Linked DNA regions of Homo sapiens. The protein of the gene in region 1 interacts with the protein of each later gene in a pairwise test. Each region holds a gene or a part of one and is shown in the gene's direction. Other genes may lie near its edges. The genes, in order: RIC8A, ZNF585B, EFEMP1, MAPK8IP3, ZDHHC17, SLC2A13 and NECAB2.

Evidence for each region.
Region 2: the proteins of RIC8A (region 1) and ZNF585B interact in a two-hybrid assay, tested with the Homo sapiens proteins (one large-scale study listed by BioGRID and IntAct).
Region 3: the proteins of RIC8A (region 1) and EFEMP1 interact in binary tests that used the Homo sapiens proteins (3 or more experiments, as listed by UniProt).
Region 4: the proteins of RIC8A (region 1) and MAPK8IP3 interact in a two-hybrid assay, tested with the Homo sapiens proteins (one large-scale study listed by BioGRID and IntAct).
Region 5: the proteins of RIC8A (region 1) and ZDHHC17 interact in a two-hybrid assay, tested with the Homo sapiens proteins (one large-scale study listed by BioGRID and IntAct).
Region 6: the proteins of RIC8A (region 1) and SLC2A13 interact in binary tests that used the Homo sapiens proteins (3 or more experiments, as listed by UniProt).
Region 7: the proteins of RIC8A (region 1) and NECAB2 interact in binary tests that used the Homo sapiens proteins (3 or more experiments, as listed by UniProt).

Annotation. Positions count from the first base shown.
Region 1 is NC_000011.10:210,708-213,160, forward strand, and holds part of RIC8A (chaperone Ric-8A), read left to right. Parts: intron 1-491; coding exon 492-642; intron 643-1,708; coding exon 1,709-1,804; intron 1,805-1,889; coding exon of another isoform or gene 1,890-1,907; coding exon 1,908-2,052; intron 2,053-2,129; coding exon 2,130-2,274; intron 2,275-2,453.
Region 2 is NC_000019.10:37,204,037-37,207,536, reverse strand, and holds part of ZNF585B (zinc finger protein 585B), read left to right. Parts: intron 1-282; 5' UTR 283-425; coding exon 426-497; intron 498-3,500.
Region 3 is NC_000002.12:55,875,283-55,878,782, reverse strand, and holds part of EFEMP1 (EGF-containing fibulin-like extracellular matrix protein 1 precursor), read left to right. Parts: intron 1-917; coding exon 918-1,037; intron 1,038-1,097; exon of another isoform or gene 1,098-1,166; intron 1,167-2,040; coding exon 2,041-2,160; intron 2,161-3,500. UniProt on the Homo sapiens protein: Binds EGFR, the EGF receptor, inducing EGFR autophosphorylation and the activation of downstream signaling pathways. May play a role in cell adhesion and migration. May function as a negative regulator of chondrocyte differentiation.
Region 4 is NC_000016.10:1,768,023-1,770,851, forward strand, and holds the end of MAPK8IP3 (C-Jun-amino-terminal kinase-interacting protein 3), read left to right. Parts: intron 1-46; coding exon 47-85; intron 86-176; coding exon 177-356; intron 357-454; coding exon 455-604; intron 605-680; coding exon 681-802; 3' UTR 803-2,329; downstream 2,330-2,829. Other genes in the region: NME3 (nucleoside diphosphate kinase 3), read right to left, coding at 2,627-2,744.
Region 5 is NC_000012.12:76,812,615-76,816,114, forward strand, and holds part of ZDHHC17 (palmitoyltransferase ZDHHC17), read left to right. Parts: intron 1-2,531; coding exon 2,532-2,596; intron 2,597-3,242; coding exon 3,243-3,405; intron 3,406-3,500. UniProt on the Homo sapiens protein: Palmitoyltransferase that catalyzes the addition of palmitate onto various protein substrates and is involved in a variety of cellular processes.
Region 6 is NC_000012.12:39,757,304-39,760,081, reverse strand, and holds part of SLC2A13 (proton myo-inositol cotransporter), read left to right. Parts: coding exon 1-56; 3' UTR 57-2,778. UniProt on the Homo sapiens protein: H(+)-myo-inositol cotransporter. Can also transport related stereoisomers.
Region 7 is NC_000016.10:83,974,744-83,978,243, forward strand, and holds part of NECAB2 (N-terminal EF-hand calcium-binding protein 2), read left to right. Parts: intron 1-3,500. UniProt on the Homo sapiens protein: May act as a signaling scaffold protein that senses intracellular calcium.

The DNA of each region.
Region 1 (2,453 bases):
AGATGGTCGTCCTCAACCCCGGCTCTGAACCAGAACCACCTGAGAGCCCAGGCCCCACCCTAGAGAGTCTGACGTTGTCTGGGTGAGTGAGACTGGACATAGCCATGAATTTGGGGGCAGGAATGTGCCAACTGGGCCTTGGGTAGTGGCAACAGTATGGTACTTACTAGGGCACATTGGTTCCTTGTCCCCGTTTTTGGTCTACCTGCCCCTAGGCTGGTCTGGGTTTCCAGAGATGGTCTGGCGCTTTGGCTCAGACAGGGTCGGGGAGGCAGTGTGTCTCAGTGCCCCCACTTCCCCAGGGGACCCCACTGTACAGCTGAGTGGCAGTGCCTCTCAGATCAGTCCCTGCCCTTGGCTTTGGTCCCTAGCGCTGCCCCTTTGGGACTCAGATGCCAGCTCATGTAATGTGTGGTTCAGCGGAGTCACAAAGATTGCACCTGTGCTCAGGGATTAGCCCTGTTGAAACCCCTACCTCCATCTGTCCCCAGCCACGCAGTGAACCTCCTGGGGAACTTGCCCCTCAAGTGTCTGGATGTTCTCCTCACCCTGGAGCCACATGGAGACTCCACGGAGTTCATGGGAGTGAATATGGATGTGATTCGTGCCCTCCTCATCTTCCTAGAGAAGCGTTTGCACAAGGTAGGCTGGGGATGGCTGTGCAGGCTCCCCCAGTGGCTCTGGCACTGGTTCTCCTGCACAGATGTGGTCAGTGCTTCCACACTGTCCACACTGGTACGTGGAGATTGTCTTGGTGGTGTGATATGGGCGACTCTTCCGGTTGTTCTGTGGTCCAGCCTGGCAAGAAGCCAGACCCTTCCTCCATGAGAAGCATGTGGACACCTTCCACACACTTGAAGGTTTCACTTCTTAAATCTTTGGGGATCTTTACTGAGTGGTCCAGAGAAGCCCCCCAGTCCCTACTTTTAAGTCTTAAACACAGGCAGCCCTTGATTACAAGCATAGTTGTCCCTCAGCATCCTGAGGAGACCCATAGGAACCTCAGATCAAAGCTTCCTTCTGATTGCTGTGACTGCACTACAGGGCATCTGGACAGCTGGGGCTCTAACCATCTTCCAGGAGCTTGCAGAAAGCAGGCTGGAGTACAATAAACCGAGATTTAGTAGACCTCCTGGGAATCTACCTGCCTAAGCAAGGGACACACAAGGTGCCTGCGAGCCAGTCAGGATAGGGAGCTGGCACTGGACACACAGCTAGGGGGTTGTCTGTGCCCGTCGCTGCCACTGCTGGTGCTGGGGTCCAGGCACATTATGCTAGGAGGGTCAAGAACTCCCTGCTCTGTCCACGAAGTACACAGAGCGGGGATTCGGTTCTCGTTTCTTTTTGCCACCAACATCTGAGGGCAATGTGTGTGCGAGTCTAAAGCTTTAATTGCTTTGTGTTTTCTTCCCAGCTCTGGTTTATAGTTGAAGTAATTAGACTTAAAGCAGTTATTTCTCCCAAGTCACAAAGCTTACGAGTACCTCTGAGTTACGCTCTATCCCTGTCCTTTTCAAAAGTGACACAGACACCCACCACCCACTCTTGGCCTTCTGCTGACTAACTGCAGAGGGGCCTCTTCCCAAACCTCTGCCGCCAGGACCAGCTGTTGTGTATGTTGGTGGGAAGGGGTGGTGGGGAGGTGTAACTCTGTGCCAGTCACAAGTTAGGCAGGGGCATAGCCCCAGTGACAGAGAATCCTCTACAGACACACAGGCTGAAGGAGAGTGTAGCTCCCGTGCTGAGCGTGCTGACTGAATGTGCCCGGATGCACCGCCCAGCCAGGAAGTTCCTGAAGGCCCAGGTATAAGGCTGAGGAGCTGGTGCTCCTGGGGGATGTGGTTTCGGCCCTGATCACAGACCCTTGGCTGCTCTAAGCCCAAGCTTAGGGATGGCCACCTCCCCAGGTGCTGCCCCCTCTGCGGGATGTGAGGACACGGCCTGAGGTTGGGGAGATGCTGCGGAACAAGCTTGTCCGCCTCATGACACACCTGGACACAGATGTGAAGAGGGTGGCTGCCGAGTTCTTGTTTGTCCTGTGCTCTGAGAGTGGTGAGTTATGGAGACCCAGGTCCCAGCCCACCCCACCTCAGCCAGGCTTGCACACTGACCTCTGCCTTGCCCCTCAGTGCCCCGATTCATCAAGTACACAGGCTATGGGAATGCTGCTGGCCTTCTGGCTGCCAGGGGCCTCATGGCAGGAGGCCGGCCCGAGGGCCAGTACTCAGAGGATGAGGACACAGACACAGATGAGTACAAGGAAGCCAAAGCCAGGTGTGTACCCCCAACACACCCTCGGGTCTCCACTCACAGCCCCATAGTCCCTGCTTCCACACCCATGTGGACCCCTGTAGGGTGGGACAGGATGACAAATGGGCAAGAGCTTCCAGAATCAAGCACCTGTTCCTAAGTGCTATCTGGGATACCAGAAGGTGGCAGATGGCAGGAGCTGG
Region 2 (3,500 bases), on another chromosome or scaffold:
TGTTCTCCACAGTTCTGAAAGTGTGGTTCTTGTACCAGCAGCATCAGCATTTCCTGGGCACTTATTAGAAAATAAAATTCTTAGGGCCTACCTTAGACCCATCGAAGGGGTGAAGTTGAGAATTTTAAACTATGTTTTAACAAGCCCTCCAGGTGACTTGAATGCATACCTACGTTTGGGAACCACTGCTCTGGTTTCTAGCGCAGGGACCTGCACCTTGGTGTATCCAGGAAGTGTTTATGTAGTGAATGTTGAATGACTACGTGGACATTGTTTTTCTAGGTTCTTGGGTGTCTCTGGGGAGTCCCTGGGCCAGACCTTCCTCCAGACTCCAGCCCACCTCTTCGGAGCAGCTCTGCTGAGTTCACAGATGACCACTAAACTTCAGGCACCCTAGACAAAAAGGGTTGAGATCCAGTGTGGCCATGCCAGCTAGTTGGACCTCACCCCAGAAATCCTCAGCCCTGGCTCCAGAGGATCATGGCAGCTCCTATGAGGTGAGGAGGAGGAGTCCCAAGGGGTGGAATTTCAGTCCAAGAGTAGATAGCTCTAATCTGTCACCACAGCCTTAGGGCAGAGGCAGACAGGCCTTAGGAACCAGCTGGACTCTAGACTTGGTGCTCCTGAAAGAAAACTTGATCTTCCTGTCAAGAATGAACACGTGGGTAATGTCTCCGTCTCTGGAGGCCACCTGTGTGACAGTGGAGAGGTGCACTGTCAAGGAAAACTGTTGTTGATTTTGTCATCACGCTATATTGATGTTTTGGCTGCAAATAGAATTCCTTGTTAGAAGTGACTTTTGTTTGAGATTTTGAAAGCATTTTTTCATTTCTTCCTAAACCACCTCCTCAAACACAAATGTTTTCTCTGTTTTCTTTCTGAAACTTGTTTTTCAGATGTTGCTTCTCCATTTCTTTTCTCTACTATTTTCTATGTATTTCCTGCTATCCATTCTGGGTAACTTTGACACCTTTTGCCTTCCAGCCCTTCTATTGAGCTTCTCATTACCACTATCCACATTTTAACTTAATGTTTTAATTTTTAAAAACTCTAGTTTGTTTCCTAAAATTTTTTTTTTTTTTTTTGAAACAGAGTTTTGCTCTCATTGCCCAGGCTGGAGTACAATGGCATGATCTCGGCTCACTGCAACCTCCGCCTCCTGGGTTCAAGAGATTCTCCTGCCTCAGCCTCTCAAATAGCTGGGACTACAGGCATGTGCCACCTCGTTCGGCTAATTTTGTATTTTTAGTAGAGACGGGGTTTCTCCGTGTTGATCAGGCTGATCTCGAACTCCTGATCTCAGGTGATCTGCCCACCTCAGCCTCCCAAAGTGCTGGGATTACAGGCATGAGCCACTGTTCCCAGCCTGTTTCCTAAATTTTTTTTTATTGCCATCCCGTTCTTATTTCATGGATGTAATGTTATTTTTTAAATTATTTATTTATTTATTTATTTATTGATGGAGTTTTGCTCTTGTTGCCTAGGCTGGAGTGCAATGGCATGATCTCCGCTCACTGCAACCTCTGCCATCCAGGTTCAAGCAATTCTCCTGCCCCAGCCTCCTGAGTAGCTGAGATTACAGGTGCGAGCCACCACGCCTGGCTAATTTTTGTATTTTTAGTAGAGATGGTGTTTCACCATCTGGGCCACGCTGGTCTCGAACTCCTGACCCTCAGGTGATCCACCTGCTTCGGCCTCCCAAAGTGCTGGGATTACAGGTGTGAGACACCATGCCCGGCCTGGGTGTATTGTTATTTCTTATCCATCTGAAGATATTGTGATAATTTATTAGGAATAGTTTAATCTTTTGAATAGGCAATGCATATACCTAGTTCAAAAGTTAGAAATATATGAAAAGCAATATATTGAAAAGTATTATGGTGAAAGAGATGGGACTGTGGTTCACCCACCTCTGCCTTCCATCTACCTGTGTCTCCCGGTAGTGATAACCTGCTTTATTCATTTTCTTTGATTGCTTAGTTCTGTATACAAATGAAAACAACTACAATTTTTTTCTCTTGATTTCAGAATGGCATAGCAGATTAACTTTTTTGTACATTGCTGTTTTAATGTTTGTTTGGTAAAATACAGAAACTATTATGAACAATATCGCAGTGGATATTGTCATGCCTTCTCTTTCTATTGGATATATTAGAAGTAGTGGAATTTCATTTCAGGGTTCTAGTCACGTGGTGAGAGTCTCATCTGCACCTCAGTGAACCTCTACTTTAGTTGCTCTTGGGCAGTTTTAGGATTGAGTATCTTAATAATTTTATTCTAGAAGATAGGAAGGATAGCTTGAGGCTAAAGTTACAGTTGGTAAAGCAGCAGCAGTTGGCTGGGCACGGTCGTTCACACCTGTAATCCCAACACTGGAAAGCCAGGGTGGGAGGATGGCTTGAGGCCAGAAGTTCAAGACCAGCCCTGGCAATGTAGTGATTCCCTGTCACTACCAAAAAAAAAATTTAATTAAATTAAAAATTAGTTTGGGCCTGGTGCGGTAGCTCACACTTATAATCCCAGCACTTTGGGAGGCTGAGGCAGGCAGATTGCCTGAGGTCAGGAGTTCGAGACCAGCCTAGCCAACATGGTGACGCCCCGTCTCTACTAAAAATAAAAAATATTTGTCAGGCATGGTGGCGTACGCCTGTAATCCCAGCTACTCAGGAGGCTGAGGCAGGAGAATCGCTTGAACCTAGGAGGCAGAGGTTGCAGGGAGCTGAGATTGCACCACTGCACTCCAGTCTGGGTGACAGAGTGAGCCTCTGTCTCAAAAAAAAAAAAAAGAAAAACAATTAGTCTGGCATGGTGCTGTGTGCCTATAGACCCACCTGCTCGGGAGGCTGAGGCAGGAGGATCACTTGAGCCTAAGAGTTCGAGATTACACCTAGCTATGAGCATGCCACTGCACTCCAGCCTGGATGAAAGAGATAGACTTTGTCTCAAAAGAAAAAAGCAGCAGTCTCTTGCATTAGGCAGAATAAGGAGACTTTTATTCACTTTTGTGGTTTGAAGAATGTTCTGATTTTTGTCTATGCTCAAATATAACGACAGAGTGGTCTTGGTATCATCTTACACCATGATGGTCAGAGATTGGTCTTGTTTGCTGTTGGTGTTCTAAGAGATTGTTTTTGTGTAGCACCATGGAGAACACCATGAATTAGCTGGCCCTTGCCAGGTTAGCTTCTAGCAACACTGAGGCTTAATTGATAGTACGAGGCTAACTCTCAGAGGTTAGGACTGCTTTTGTCCTCATTTAAAAATAAGAGAGTGAGCCAAAAGAAAGCTAGGGCTGCAATTTAGGAACAGATCAAAAGGGATTTAAGATGAAAATCACCTAAAGGGATGAAAACATGTTGTTCATCCTTATGAAAAGAATCATGTACAAAGAATTATACAAATTATTAGCATTTTTTTAATTAATAATGTATCTTTGAACTATTTTAAGTAAAAATGAACAGAAATCATTAAATGCAATATTGGCCATTTTATCACACTAC
Region 3 (3,500 bases), on another chromosome or scaffold:
TAATTGCCAGAACAAAGATTCAGACTCAGGTTATCCTGAGGCCACTTGAGCACACTACTTAATTTTAGTTATTAAAGTACCAAAAGAGCCCAGCATAAAGGTTTGTTTTGTTTTGTTTTGTTTTACCACAAGGCAGTGTCACTATATAGCATTACATTGTATATGCATAATGGTTGTTTTAAATTACACATGCCATGTTGAAGTTGTCACAAAGTGTAGAATCATGAATTAATGAAATTTTATTATGCTTCTAAGATGTTAGTCCTACTTAGCAAGTTCTTAGTTGAGCATTTTATAGTTGAAAATATTTATATGAGAAGGACACAGGCTGGAACACTTCATCAAAGTGTCAAAAGAGCACTCTCAAGAGGTAACTTATTTAGCATCCAATTCTTCCACAGTGTTCTTTTATTTGATACACAAAAACGTCCTAAGATACACATGGCAAGCCTTGCTATCCACATCTTATAGAAGAAAAACCAAGATACTGAAGGCGTAAGTGACTTAGCCAAGGTCACCAGTTGAGCACAGCCCACAACTCTTTCTTCTTTGTTTTGTGCTGCACCATGCACTTCAGTAGTTCTTTTTTACTTCTGTAATTATATATAAGCTTTTAGCTCCCCAAACTGACATCTTATATATATATGCAATAGTCTCAATTATTTTGTTTTCTTTAAATCTCAATCCACCCACCAAGTTTATTTACCACTGAATGGCATGAACATTGAGTCTTTGTTCTTAACTTCTTAACTCAGAATACAAAGTATATTTAAAATACATATACCCTAATTTTAACAAAATAGGAAATTATTACTTTTAAAAAGAGATTTTCTCTACATAGGTTTTCTAGATAATGCTTTTCAGAGAATGCTAATTCAATAATTTGGTTCTCTTTGTGTGTGTGCCTGATAACCTAGACATAGATGAATGTACCATCCCTCCATATTGCCACCAAAGATGCGTGAATACACCAGGCTCATTTTATTGCCAGTGCAGTCCTGGGTTTCAATTGGCAGCAAACAACTATACCTGCGTAGGTAAGCCTTTTGAGAACTTGCTGATTTCTGTCTTCACAAAAGGAAACCCCATGCCATGTTGCAGTATTTCCAGTTTTCTATGTTCTTGAGTAAATAGTTTCCATCGACTTCCCTTCAGCAATCATAAAGCTTAAAAGATAATAACCAATCTGTGTCTTAAAACACATCAAGATGTGAACAGAAAACTTTTTAACTTTGGTTTTAGTTCTCCTCTGTGGATAGATCAACAAATTTAAAACTACAAATCAATTGATATACATACACCAGTCAATCAGCAGTGTGTGATATAATGCTGAAAGTGCCAAAGGGGTTACTACAAGTTCAAGTATATAAACTTTCCACTGAAAGTGCATCTGATTTTTACATGCCTCTTCTCCCCTTTCAGAATGCAATGTCACGGCACACAATTAAAAGATTGGCATGACATGGAAAAAATCTAGTGTAGGAAAAATGCCTTTTCACAATATTTTCAGTGCTTTAGAGCATTGCAAAACTCCGTATGGGTCTCAAAGGCTTATGTTATAATTGTAATGGAATTTAACAGAACCCATTTAAAAAGTAATAAATAGCACAGATAAATCTTCAGTACAGCATGCTGAGAGACCATATCAGTATAAGTGTCTTATATCAATTATTTATAGAATTGGCATTTTGTATCTGAACAACAAAAGAAAATCGATACCGGAGTGTATATTTATTAGAAGCATTAAATTCCTTTGGAAAGATTCATCAAACATCAAACTAACTGTCATTCCTAGAAAAAATATTTCGGTATTTCCAAAAGAAGTATATGACAGACGTTTGTAGTTGTTCCAACAAATATGAAACCTAAATGGATGTTCTCCAGTGAGCTTCTGCAGGGCAAATAATTCAGCTAGGGAATTACTCACTTGTCAGCAGATGACGTAGGTACAAAAGAGTAAGGATATGTTTAAAGTCTATATATATATGTGTGTGTATATATATACATATACATATATATATATATAAAACTTTTTTTCAGATATAAATGAATGTGATGCCAGCAATCAATGTGCTCAGCAGTGCTACAACATTCTTGGTTCATTCATCTGTCAGTGCAATCAAGGATATGAGCTAAGCAGTGACAGGCTCAACTGTGAAGGTAAAACTCTTCCCAGATAGTATGGAATAAAGTCCAATTCCTGTGACTGCTGTTGTTTTATCTGATTATGTACCCATTTATGAAAACAAACGCTTACCCATGGGAATTCTGTTCTAAAATCCAGTTAATGTAGTTCAGTTGTTACATTGCCTTTTTAGTGTGTTACCAAGAAAAAGGAAAAGAAATAAAAATAACTGAAATATTAGGTGCAGGCTGGCTCTAATAATTAGAAAGGGTGCTCTAGCATGTTGCGTCTCAGTGTGTTATCCAGTGACCAGGTATGTCAGCACCTCCTGGGAGCTTATGAGAAATGCAGAATCTCAGGCTGCAACCCAGACCTCCTGAGTCTGAATCTACATTCAACAAAAACTGCAGGTGACTGGTGTGCACATTTAAGTTTCAGAATAGCCAAGTGCATGTCAAAACATTAAAATAAAAATCAGGAGATCTGGTTTCTGGTTCTATTCCTGCTACTGTGTGACTTGGGCACATTTCTTGAGTTGCCTGGGTTTCACTTTCCACATGAACAAGAGGAGGGCCATTTAACTAGATTCATGACCTTCAGGGTCCATTGCATGTGCACATTTCGTTATATAATTCAAAAGGCATTAGACATCCTGAGGGGGATGCCACAGACACTTGATGTCCCTGACCTCCTCACGGTTCACTCAGCTTTACACAAAGCTCAAACCCCACCGAGAGAGGCCTCACATCATGCCATTACACTCAAAACTGAAAGAGGCTACCTCAGGACAGCTGCCTCTGCCCTTCTGAGTAAACTGTAGGGACATCACTATTCAGAAATGCAAAGCATTCTTCCCCTGAAAGTCAGATCCTGCCAAGCTGTCATTCTGGAAGCTTGCACAGGTTAGGGGACTTGGCATTCAAAGCTCAAATGAACTTGGCTTCAAAGTCACCCAATTTCTGAGAAGACAAACATGAACTCTACATCCTGGATGGGTCTGCAGAGTCCAAAATGAAGGCCGTCAACCACAAGCCAATTCATTCAGTAGTGTAGTTAGGTCCAGGATTAGCCAAATTGTCAGCAATGATTCAGTAAAAGTCATGATAAGAAAAACTTTTTGTGCTATGAAGTCATAGAGGGAAATAAGCTGATATTGTTAGAATTTGCCTTTTAGCTGCTTATAAAGTTTTGTATTTCTATTTCAGAATTTGCAATATTTTTACTCTCTTTAGCTCACCTCAAAAGTGTATTACTTCCTCTGGACTGTTGAGCAGAACAAAAAAAATATATATGTGTGTGTGTGTGTGTGTGTGTGTGTGTGTATATATGAAACCCAGGCAACTTAAGAAATGTGCCCAAGTCACACAGTAGCAGG
Region 4 (2,829 bases), on another chromosome or scaffold:
ACGCTGACCGCTCTCCTCTTCTCCCATGCTCCTCCCATGTCCCCAGCTGTGGTCCTGCACCGAGGCCAGCTCCTGGGGCTCCGAGGTAAGCCCAGCCACCTCGTGTCCCCTCACGGGAGCCTCTCCCACTCTCCACCTGTATGCGGGCTCAGCGCCTCTGGGTTCTCTCCCTGCAGCCAATAAGACATCCCCCACCTCTGGGGAGGGCGCCCGTCCCGGGGGCATCATCCACGTGTATGGCGATGACAGCAGTGACAGGGCGGCCAGCAGCTTCATCCCCTACTGCTCCATGGCCCAGGCCCAGCTATGCTTCCATGGGCACCGCGATGCCGTGAAGTTCTTTGTCTCGGTGCCAGGTGAGGCTGGGCCCCTCCTGCCATCCACATCCCCTGCATGCCAGTGGCCGCCGCCTCCCCCAGGAGGCCGCTGTCCTGAATCGCTTCTGCCATCCCAGGGAACGTGCTGGCCACCCTGAATGGGAGTGTGCTGGACAGCCCAGCCGAGGGCCCTGGGCCAGCTGCCCCTGCCTCGGAGGTCGAGGGCCAGAAGCTGCGGAACGTGCTGGTGCTGAGCGGCGGGGAGGGCTACATCGACTTCCGCATTGGTGAGCGGGGCCCAGGGACAGGGCTGAGGTTGGGCGCGGGGGGAGCCTGGCCGTCACTCTGCTGCTTTGCCCGCAGGAGACGGAGAGGACGACGAGACGGAGGAGGGCGCAGGGGACATGAGCCAGGTGAAGCCCGTGCTGTCCAAGGCAGAGCGCAGTCACATCATCGTGTGGCAGGTGTCCTACACCCCCGAGTGAAGCTGCTGCCCTGCCTGGCCCGACCTGTACATAGGACCCCCGACCACCTGACCCCCGCCCGGCCCGCGGGGTAGCCAGCCAGGCGCCGCCGCCCCTCTTCTAACCTCTCAACCTGCAGCTTTCACCTGAGTCTGGCCCCTCCAGCGGGCAGGGAGTGCGGGGATGCGGATCAGCTGGGAGGAGGAGGGGAGGGGAACTTCCACCCGAGGGGAAGATGCTCTCGGGACAGTTTCCCGGGCAGCTCCTGGCCAGCTTCCAGCCCAGAGTCCTCAAGTCCAGGGCACCTTGGGCCCAGCGCAGGCAGAATCCGAGGTGGTCCTGGCTCTACCCTGGGCCTCCTACTCCCCAGCACCCCTGGAGGAGGCAGGGGCTCCCCGCCGCCGAGGCTGCCTGCCCTGGGCCCACCTCTGCATGCTGCTCATGGGGCCACCCTGCCTCCTGGGCCCTCACTCTGCCTAGGGGAGCTGGGCCAGGCACTAGCCTTTGCCCAGGGAGGTGGGCCTCAGGCTGCCCAGGTGCCTGCACCCCAGCCGGCCTTCTCTGGGGCCTCCCCGTCGTCAAGCCTCTATCCTGTCTGTCCCCACCCCAGCTGTCCCCTGCCCAGGGAGCTGGCATAAAAGCACGAGGCCCGGCTCCCTGGGGCAGCTGCTTGAGAACAGAGACTGCTACCCCATCCTGCCCATGCAGGCAGGCTCTTGCCAGCCCCGTTCTGACCCGTGTCCCCCCAGGCTCTGCCTGGGCAGAAGACTCACCTTGGAGGAGTGGGCCCTGGAGTCCTGTCCCTCCCAGAAGCCCCCAGGGTGGGATTTCTCAGGCTGCCAGGGCAGGCCCAGGCCTCAGGAAGAAGGGGAGGCCCCTGGCCTCTCCGGGATCAGTCCTAGGACACAGGCTCAGCCTCAGGTTGATGGGGGATGATGTGCTCCCGGGGCCTGCCTCCTGCACGGGGCTCCACGGAGCCCAGCTCCCAGACACGCTACTAAGTGCCTAGGGTTGCCCGCTGTGGCCTGCTTCCAGGGAGCAACAGAGAGGCCACCAAGCAGAGGCCCGTGGGGCTGAGGATGGAGCCGCCCCCAGCCGACTCCAAGCCCGCAGAGGGCAGACGCCACCCTGGACTGCTCTCCCTGCCCAGCTGGGCCTCTCTGGCCTATTCCTACCTTCCAGGCCCACTGCACTCCTGTCTGGGAGGCCCTTATGAGGGCAGCCCAGCCCCCGCACCCACCCCCAACCAGAGAAGCACAGATCTTGGGGAGCTGCCCCACAAGCCCCGCTGGCCACCGAGGGCTGCAGCCGCTGCGCTGCCGGCTTCTCCCCACCACCCTGCCACCTCCACTGTGATGTATGTCCGCTCCCTCGTCTGTTCCCCCAGGATCTCGAAGTGACTCCGGGCTGAGCAGTGGGGCGGCTGGGGGAGGGGTGACGATTCTCCTCAGGCTTTGGCCCTGCAAGCAAACCCACATATCTGCTCTGTATGTAATAAATGTCTTAACGTCGTAGCTGCCTGTTCCTGGGCCCAAATCGAAACGAAAACGAGGACTTTATTATAAAAAAACGTTGGACCACGTTGGGCTGGGCACCAGGACAGTGTCCTGGCACGTTTCCAGGCGAGCCGCGCAGGCTCCTGGAGCAGCTCCTCGGGCAGGAAACCCTGTACGCCAGGGATTGGAGAGGCCTGCGCCACCCTCCATGCAACGTCCAGACAGGTGGATGTTCAGCAGCCCGTCCAAAGGGATGCTCCAAGCGCTGTGGGGTGGGGCCAGAAGCCCGCCCACCTGGGCCCTGGAGGAGGCTGGAGTGTGAGAGCCTCTGTGACGCGCATCTGCCGGGCTACTCATACAGCCAGTGCCCAGCGCTGTCCTCCCAGCAGAGGAGCTCGTCTGCGCGGAACCAGAGAGCGATCTCGCGGCGGGCACTCTCCACCGAGTCGCTGCCGTGAATCAGGTTCCTGCGCGGAAGAGGCGCGTGTGAGCGTGGGAAAGAGACCTCCGGCACGGGTACCACGCAGGCTGAACAGGGGGAGGCCGGACGGG
Region 5 (3,500 bases), on another chromosome or scaffold:
CTTGATTTTTCAGCTTTAGATAGTTTTCTTTGATTCATGGCTACTATAGATGAGGCTCTCAGCATATTTTCATTTCAACCTTTTTCCATTTTCCCATTTTGTTGTTAATTATATCAATTTTACATTGTCAGGGTATATAACATTTCCATTCAGTTTTGTCATTCTATTCTTCACAATCGTTTTGTTTTAGTTATATTGTTAAATATATTTAGTGCTCACTACCAATTCTTTTGGATGATTTTCAGGAGAAAAAGGGGAAAATGCTAAGTTATGGAGCCCTGTTGATCATGGAATTCCCATAAGCTTTTGATCTGGGCTTGTTAATTCTTCCTAATAGAGAATACCCATACGTCCAGGCTGAACTTGGAAAAGAAGTACCAAGTTTTAAATCCCGACCCAAAGAGAGAAAAGGTTGAATTTCATTTTTCTTTTAGTACTCTAGAGATGTGCCATGATTTTACATTTTTTTATTTATTGATATTTTTAATACTATCATTTTTTAAAAAGGATATGAAAACACAACTAAGAAGAAGGAGAAACTTAAACATAAGAATTTACATGCTTGCTTTAATTAGACCTGAAATTTGGTTGAGGTCCTACGGAAATTAGGAGTAAAAGAAGTCACAATAGTTACTTCTCATATAAGAAATAAGGAAGTTTGTTGTTTCTTCAGAAAACATATTTTTTTTAAGCCACAGGATTATTTTAAAAAATGTACTTGCATATTGGAAATGTTGAGTGAGGTTGCAGAAGATATTCCTGACAACACTATTAAAGTAAATCCAGAAATGGATTTGTAATGGATAAGGCATAACATTCTATGACAGTATGCATGGTGAGTGACTAAGTTAATGACATCCAAGGAAATGCTTTACTTATCTAATGTAGTGGTTCTCAGATTTTTTTTCTTCAATATGCTTAGATAATGTTCACATTTGAGACATATTCCTATTGCTAACAGTGGCTCACAGAGAACTGATGCATAGAGATAGTGTTTTACAGTGTGCTTACTGTAACTCTCTGCTCTCTCCACTGATTGGTGAATTAGGTAACACAACTTGGATTAGAACTGCTTGCTTAATGTAATTCAGGAATGGGAGATGGGGTAGAGAAGAAGAAGAAACTTAATATTTATTGAATATCCATTATGTTCTCAGCTGTTGACTAGATGCTTTGCACACATTATTTAATCTTCACAGAAGTCTTATGAAGTTATTTGTATTTCACATTTTTTAATGAGGAAGCTAAGACTAAGAATTAAAGTAATTTAGCCTACAATCTCATAGCAATTATATGATGGAGCTAGGAAGTCAAAACCATGTCTTATTCTAAAGCCAAGCCTAGAAAAGTAGATAGATAAGCATGTCTTTTCCTTTAATAAATGGTTTTCGATCATCTACTCTGCTGGGCACTGAGAATACGAAGATGGATTTGAGATGATTTTTATTTTCAAAGTACTCCAGGTTAATGAGACACACATTTCAGGCATAGAGGATAATCAGTTCAGAATGGAGTGGGTTAGGAAAGGTAGTTTCAGAGCATTGAAACTGATAAGAGTCCCTGATACATCAGAAAGTCTTGCGCAAGGAGAATTAGATAACTAGGAAAGAGTTTCGGTTTAATAGGTGGAAGTTTTAGTTATAATTTGCTAAAAACTAAGTAGTAGTGGGGGAAAGATGGTGCCAGGGAAAGCAAAAAATTGAGTAGAAGAGGAAAAATAGTGGTTTATTACATGGTTTGGCTGGGAATAGTATTTATGCATATTTATAATAATACATATCAAGTATTAAATGTTTATATGAACCAGAATTACAATAGATCTCTTGAGAGGAAAGAATAGGAAAGGCGTGCATTTGTGATGTAGCAGAGAGGAAAGAGAAAAATTCAGATTTTTTGTACCAAGGAATTTCAGAATAATGCCTGAAACTGAAAAATCAAGAAGTAGCAATTCAAACATCTTATTTAAAGATATGGAGGTAAATATAAAAATAATGAGCCAAAAAATGGTGAAAATGGTGGGAAGTAAGGCAGGGGGATTGCTTTAGTGTGTTGCTTTTTCCACACAAACTGCAGAATCATTTAACTCTAAAAATGTACATGTGTAACAGTAAAAACTGAGTATATTAAAATGTCAGTTCTTTTTATTTTTTGTTTTGAAATGCCTAGGAATAAACAGTTTTGTCGTTCTCTCTTATGCATTAGTATAAACAAGTTTTTCAGAAACTTAATCACTTAACCTATCCTTTGTGGTTGAAAGGTCAGAATAGGTTAAGAATTTTAAATGTGAAACATTGAAAGGCTGATTAAAACATCTTAAAAGGGAATAATGTAAAAGCATGATATATGTTCACTAGAGTATATAGTGACAAGAGTTTCATTTTAAAGTTAAGAAAGAAAGTTTCATACATTATCCTTGATTGAGTAGTATTATATTCGCTTCTCCTTTTATATATAGATTAGATTTTTCCAAGCAAATTTGGTTAGGAACTTATAATTTAACTGTCTGACTTTTTTTCTTTTTACTTTATCAGGATGTAGATATGATGGATCAGAATGGAATGACGCCTTTAATGTGGGCAGCATATAGAACACATAGGTATGTAATGACTATAAAAAACTTATTTAGGCCATTTCAGCATAATACAATATGAAGTAAGAGAGAGGAAAAAGCAGTTAATACTATACTCACTAATATTTACAGTTTTTATTATGACTATAGTATATATAAATTACCATTTTGGATGTTCTGGTATCTCTGTGCTGTCTCTCCCTCACTGATTAGAGCTTCCTTAATCTGTTTCTCTTTTAACAATATCTAAGAAAAGAAGTTATCTTTTTTTAAAAATTAATTAATTTTTTCATGTGATTTACATATTGACAAATTTATTAATTAGTAAGTTGTCTTAGATCACTTTTGGAAGACTCCAAATTTAAATTTTAAAAAGTGTTATTCTTGAATTGTATAAGTATTAATGCCATTTCTAGGTCAAAAATAGAAAATATCAGGACCAAGTTGCTTATCCCCTGAAACTATTAATATATTATTTTATATGGTGTCATACATACTTAATACTTCATATTAGAATATTGTCTCATTATTGATTTTAAAGTTGTTGAGTAGGTTAGAAGTGTTCCAAAATGGAATGCTACTGTAAGCATAATCAGTTTAGTATTTGTAATGATTTCTATAATTGAAATTAGGGTTGTTGTTGTTGTTTGTTTTTTTTTTTTTTCCTTTTCAGTGTGGATCCAACTAGATTGCTTTTAACATTCAATGTTTCAGTTAACCTTGGTGACAAGTATCACAAAAACACTGCTCTGCATTGGGCAGTGCTAGCAGGGAATACCACAGTCATTAGCCTTCTTCTGGAAGCTGGAGCTAATGTTGATGCCCAGAATATCAAGGTAAAAATATTCTATATTGATAATACTGTATGAAATGTGGCTAATATGTGAATTCTGTAATAAAACAAGTTTTTCATAGACTGTCAGAGTTGAAA
Region 6 (2,778 bases), on another chromosome or scaffold:
GGGTAAAGGGAAGTAACTATCATCTTTCTGACAATGATGCTTCTGATGTGGAATAATTTTCAGCTGCTCATATATTTAGTTATTTAAACAAACTGGGGGGAGAAGAACAGCAATTGGTGACTTCACTGCCCTGCTTCTAATCTGGTTCTTTCCACAGCCTAGTTTTGATTGACTTCATATTCTAGAATACTTGATTAGGAGGAAGATACAACCATGATGACTTTTTTTTTCCACAAGGAACAATATTTTAAAAAATATTTACAGAGATTTTAATCTAATAATTCTTAAGCAAATGTGTGTAATGCCTTCCTGAAATAGTCTAAAATGAATATTGTACCCAGTGACTTCAGTGGTATCCTTTTTTCCTAAGACCATTTATAATTATTAGTGGCAACAGAGTCAGTGCTAATCTAGCCAAATTACATATGTATAATATATTTATAAAGGATTCTGGGAGATGGTCCAAGGGTGTTCTGTGTCAAAAGATGGCCTATTGGCCCTCAGTTTTCCTACAGAGTAGTGGCTTATCTCTGATCAGCTGTTACAAACTAAATTCCATGTAAGCTTTCATCAACAAATTCCAAAGTGCCTCCTACAAGGGCACAGCTGTCCGTATCTCCTTTGGATTCCATATTTTTGTTTCTCTCCAATTCAGATATTGGGAGTTCTTCAGATACTGACTCTGCACACTATCTTTTGAACATTATGAAAATATAATCTGTCGGGTTGTTTTCATACTTCTTTTTTTTGCATCAGTGATAAGGCATACATTTGCGCAGATGAGCTAGGAAGTTTTGAGAAGTACCTTTTATGTTCAGAAAGTAACAGATTAAAGGTTTTTATGGGTTCCAAATTGGTTAGTCACTTAGGTATGCAATTATAAATGCAAAATAGTGCCAGATCTTTAACTGTATATCAGGGTCAGTTTTTGTTCATGCCCAAATCACTACACCTTCCTCATTGGCCTTGGAGTCCTACTATTTCGTGCCTTCATTTGTGTTACATACATAGCTGCAAGCAAACCATTTTTCCCCTTTCTTTTATTCAAACAATAATTTTTGAAACAAAAAAGAGGAAGGAAATCAGTGGCAGAAATAATCCTGCTGTTATTGGTGTTTGTTTAATAAAAATAATGGGACTTTTTTCTTAACTTTTTATTAGCTCTTCCTAAGGGAAATGTCACATATTATTATTTAATTGTACTTGTCTTTTTTTACTTTAAGAGCATAAACTCGTTTTTATTTTGCACACTTTTCTCATTTTCCTGAGAATTTACCAGAAAAAAAAAAGATACATAGATTTGTCTCTGTGTTTTTCTTATTCTTGGCTTAGTTTTTCCTTCTTGTGTAAAAATTGAGATTGCCTATTGGAACAGATAATTGGTTCTAATATAGCACGTCTATAAGAAATGCAGGCTTAATTATATTTCCACAATGTCTTTCCAAGGTATTCATTGGTTTTTATGGTAATTCATCACTGAACTCTTAATTTTTGCTTTTCTATTAAGAACTATATAGTATGTACAAAATTACTTGATCACAAAATTACTTGCTAGTTCCAGGAAAAATATGAATGAATCTTCTGTGGCCAGTTAGGAATACATCAGTTTGATGCATTTTTAAATGGCTCTAAACATCTAATAAGGTACTGTATTTGGAGAGAAAAGGTGGCTATCTCCATATTCAAAATATTTCTTCCAGTCTCCAAGATACTCTATTCTTTTAATGTCTGGCTTGTTCCTATCACAGTTATCAAGCTGAGAATACAGCTGAGGAAGTTCATTCTCTAAGTCACCAGAGGTATAATATGTGCTTAAACTGTCAATTTAGTGCCCTAAAAATCCATTAACCAAAAACAAAAACGTTTTCTCCCTTTGGTCATTTCATATAATAAAAAAAATTAATATTTTATAGAGGTTTTTTCCTTGAATTAGGTGCTTTAACAATTGATTTCCAAGGGAATATTAGTATTGATTTTTTCCTCAGAAAAGCAGATATGATTTAATAGGGAAAATTATTATTCTATTGATATTTCTTATCTCATAAGAAATTTCTTATCTAATATTTTACACAGGTAAATTGAAGTGAAAAATAAGCTACTATATGGTACAATCAAAATATAATAAGGAGAAAAAGTAGACCAATAAAGTGCTCTCTAAAAATTTATTTTTTGGACTTAATCAAAATAATTGCCTCAATCCTTCTCTTTATTGTATATGTAGCCTTAACTAACTATATACTTATAAACTCAGCTGGGCTGATGCACAGTAACTTTATTAAAGGAGAAACTGGACTCTTGTTATTTCCTAAAGCAGAACATGGCCTGTTCTCCCTGATATAAGAAAACAATGTTTTCAACTTTATAACCATAAATGCACATAATAACAGGGAAAATTAGCCACAGTTCTCCTCCCCTACTCCCCTGAGCCCCTACTTTAAAGGACTATTTGTTATTTATATAGTGTTAAAGATAATATTCCATATCTTTGAAGTATAAGACAGAGAGGCACAGTATAAGAATTATTTATAACTTTTTAGAAACAATTACTTGAAAAGGAACCTTATACAATTAGGGTATTATTTTTAGATTTGGTGAACATTTATAGTATATTAAAAATTAAATGTTTAAATTTTGCAGGTTTTTTTATATTAGGCACCTTTTAAGTTCCCAGCATATTTGGCTACCACTATCAACTTGGAAACATTCCATTTGTAGTATCATCAAATATATATTTTGTAGGACAATTTATATATGATGTGATTTGACCTACCATATTAA
Region 7 (3,500 bases), on another chromosome or scaffold:
GGACTTGGTGTGGGTATAGATAGGGGAGTGGTGTGGGAATAGAATGGCTGGGGAAAGAGGAATGAGTGTAGGGGTGAGAATAGGTGTCAAGGAGGTGTGGATCCAAGAATGAGAGCAGGTGTGCAGGGAGGTGTGGGTGCAGGGATGAGAGCAGGTGTGCAGGGAGGCGTGGGTGCGGGGATGGGAACAGGTGTGCAGGGAGGTGTGGGTGCAGGGATGGGAACAGGTGTGCAGGGAGGTGTGGGTGCGGGAATGTGAACCGGTGTGCAGGGATGAGAGCAGGTGTGCAGGGAGGTGTGCAGGGATGAGAGCAGGTGTGCAGGGAGGTGTGGGTGCAGGGATGAGAACAGGTGTGCAGGGATGAGAGCAGGTGTGCAGGGAGGTGTGCAGGGATGAGAGCAGGTGTGCAGGGAGGTGTGGGTGCAGGGATGGGAACAGGTGTGCAGGGAGGTGTTGGTGCGGGGATGGGAACAGGTGTGCAGGGAGGTGTTGGTGCGGGAATGTGAACCGGTGTGCAGGGAGGCGTGGGTGCGGGGATGGGAACAGGTGTGCAGGGATGAGAGCAGGTGTGCAGGGAGGTGTGGGTGCGGGGATGGGAACAGGTGTGCAGGGATGAGAACAGGTGTGCAGGGGGTGCAGATGTGGAGGCCGATAGGCCCACAAGCACACACAGGACTGCTCAACACTGACGCTAGCCCTGCCTCACGTGTCCACAGGAAGGATGGATGGGATGCCTCAGGGGAGCGGGAGATGGGGTGCAAACTCAAAGGACCCCCCAGGCTGCCCTTAGGACTTAGAGATTACAGGAACAAAGGCTCAGGGCTGCCCTGTCAGGGTGGCTCCTGTGACAGAGACTTGTTTGGCTGAGCTGGATACCGGATGCCCAGTCCCTATGGGAAGGTTAGCATGAGGGGCCTGACTGGCAGCCTGGGACATAAACTCAGGGGGTGGCAGAGGGCTGAGTGGCAGACAGCATTTCCCTTCAGGGACATGGACGCTGACAGGCTGACAGGCTCTTGGCATTTGAAAGGTCATGGAGACAGAGAGTGAGTTTGTGCTAATTAGCAAAGACACCTGCAAACGGCCCGCTTGGGGTCTCTGGCAAAAGTGCCAGCGCGGGCCCGCTTGGCCTGTCTAATTGGACTGGGGGCCTACGTAGGGCATGTTTTTTCCTCATTAGTGAATTCATTAGGGCCGTGATCAGGCGTTCAGGATAAATGTCAGCCGAAAGCTTAGTGAGGGGGCACCTTGCTGGCCTCTGTCTGCCTGCTCTCCCTGTGTGCCGAGGGGGCACCTTGCTGGTCTCTGGCTGCCTGCTCTCCCTGTGTGCAGAGGGGGCCCAAGGTACCTGGACAGGCACGTGGGGAGATGAGCCAGCCAGAGGGAGGCTGGGATTGGGGCTCACAACCCCTGTCATGCCCATGGTGACTGCCCCTCACCCAAAGTGGGGGTGCCTGAGCCAGCACCCACCCCCTGCTGGGTAGGTGGCGATGTCGCCACAAGATCCTACCCCTGGATTAGGTTGAGAGCCTGGACTTGGGAGCCAGATGGCCTGGGTTCAAGCTTCAGCTGTAGGACCTAGGCAAGTACCCTAAGGGCTCTGTGCCTCAGTTTACCCCTCTCTAACATGGAAGTGGTAGTACTACCTGTGTCGTGAGTGTTAAGAAGACTAAAGGAGTGAGTCCGTGGAAGGTACTCCACGTGTGGTGTGACTCCACACTGGGATTCCTGGGTTTTATCTTCAGGCTTGCCGAAGACACTCGGAAGGCATCCTCTGTCACAGAACACAGAAAGCAACAACTTCGATTTCACTTATCTCGTGGCTGACTTTGCGGACTTTTAGTTGTTAGGTTTTGGGTCTTTGGTTTGTGCATGTGTGGTTGGATTGGGGTTTTTTTGGCCTTTCCTTTGAAAGACAGAAATTCTTCCCACTGTAACCTTGAAATCTGAGCTGCGATGGGGGCATCTTGGGATATTGGCCCTAGCCCCCCGTGCCCACACGTTCATATTCTTTACCGGTCTCTGATACTTTATGCTCTATGGGGTTAAAGAGAAAAGTGGTGGCATGAAACCTTGGCAAGATCTGAGGACCCCCCCTCTCCTGAGCTTATGCTCTCACCCTGTGTTGAGCTCCAGCAGAGCTGCTGGGAGCACAGACAGAAGCACTGGAGCCTTTAAAGTTTAAGAATGACTCATTCTCAACCCAAGTACGTCTGCCATGTCGGGTTAGGCAGGTTGTGCGCTGCACAAGGGCACCCACCCGAGGAAATGGAGGGTTTCAAATCCAGGCTGCAATCCGCTTTCAACACATGTGCACTGACACTGGTCTCATCCTCTCGGCAGAGAAAGGAGAGTCTTTTTCTAATCCATAGGAAGGTGCCATGTGGACTCTCAGGGCCCTTGTCCCAAGCACCCAGCTTTGAATGCAGATCCTCTGGAAGTAATGCCAGGGGTTTATGCAGAGAGGCTGGGGGCCAGGAACTGTCATGGGCTCCCTCTTGTCTCTGACCTCCATGCCACTCACATAGTTTCTCTTAAGGAGGAACAGATCCTTGAGGAGGGGGGAGGTGGCTGCAGGGCAGGTGGGGGATGAGCTTGCTGGCATTTGCTCAGCAGGTCTGTTCAGGTGGAAGGAGCTGAGGGTGGAAGCTTAGGGACCGCCTCCCAGAGTCCCTGATGTTCTTAAGCCACCTCCCCTGGTGGCCCAATCTGATCCAAACCCACAAGACCTTCCTGGTAGGGCCAAAAGTGTCCCCAGAGCAACTGCAAGTGAAGGGAAAAGGTGAGGCGATGGGTGGGACTGGTGGCATGTGTCCCACCCATCCCTCCACAGAGCCCCTCCACAGAGGAGCTGTGGAGGCCCCTCTGTGGAGCTCCACCTCAGAAGCACAGCCTCTGGCCAGAGCGTTGGCACCTCCAGGCCTGGCACCTCCTTCCTGCATGGCTTGGCATCTAGATGGCTGCATCTGTGGCCTGGGAGAGGAGGTAACTGAGAACCTCATGCCGGCCATTGGCAGCCATCTCATGCTGCCTCAGGGAAGGACCTGAAGTTTGCCACATAGATGGGGCGGAGAAGAAAGGGTTCTTCTGTACTCTAAGAACAGTGCTGAGAGAGTCAGGGCTTAGGGGCTGGGATTGGGGTTGGGAGCATGCAGAGACCACTTGGCGTTTGGAAGCTATGGAGTGGTGGCTCATCCAGCTGCTGGTTTTTGGATCCACTTCATACCGATGGTGTGACATGGGACAAGTTGCTCACAGTGGGTTATCTTAAATAGCACCTGCCTCCAGGTGGCCATGTAAATTGAGAGAAAATTCACTGGCAGGGGGCAGATACTCTATATTTGTTGAACGCATGGAAAATGTTGAGTGCATGGTGAGCCCAAGAAAGCTAGCTATTGCATTATTGTTAGTTTGAGGATTATCTGTAAACAGGCATTGGTCTGGGAATTAGCTGGATGAGGCATGATTCTCTGTGTACTGGAGTTTACTGGTTAGTGTGG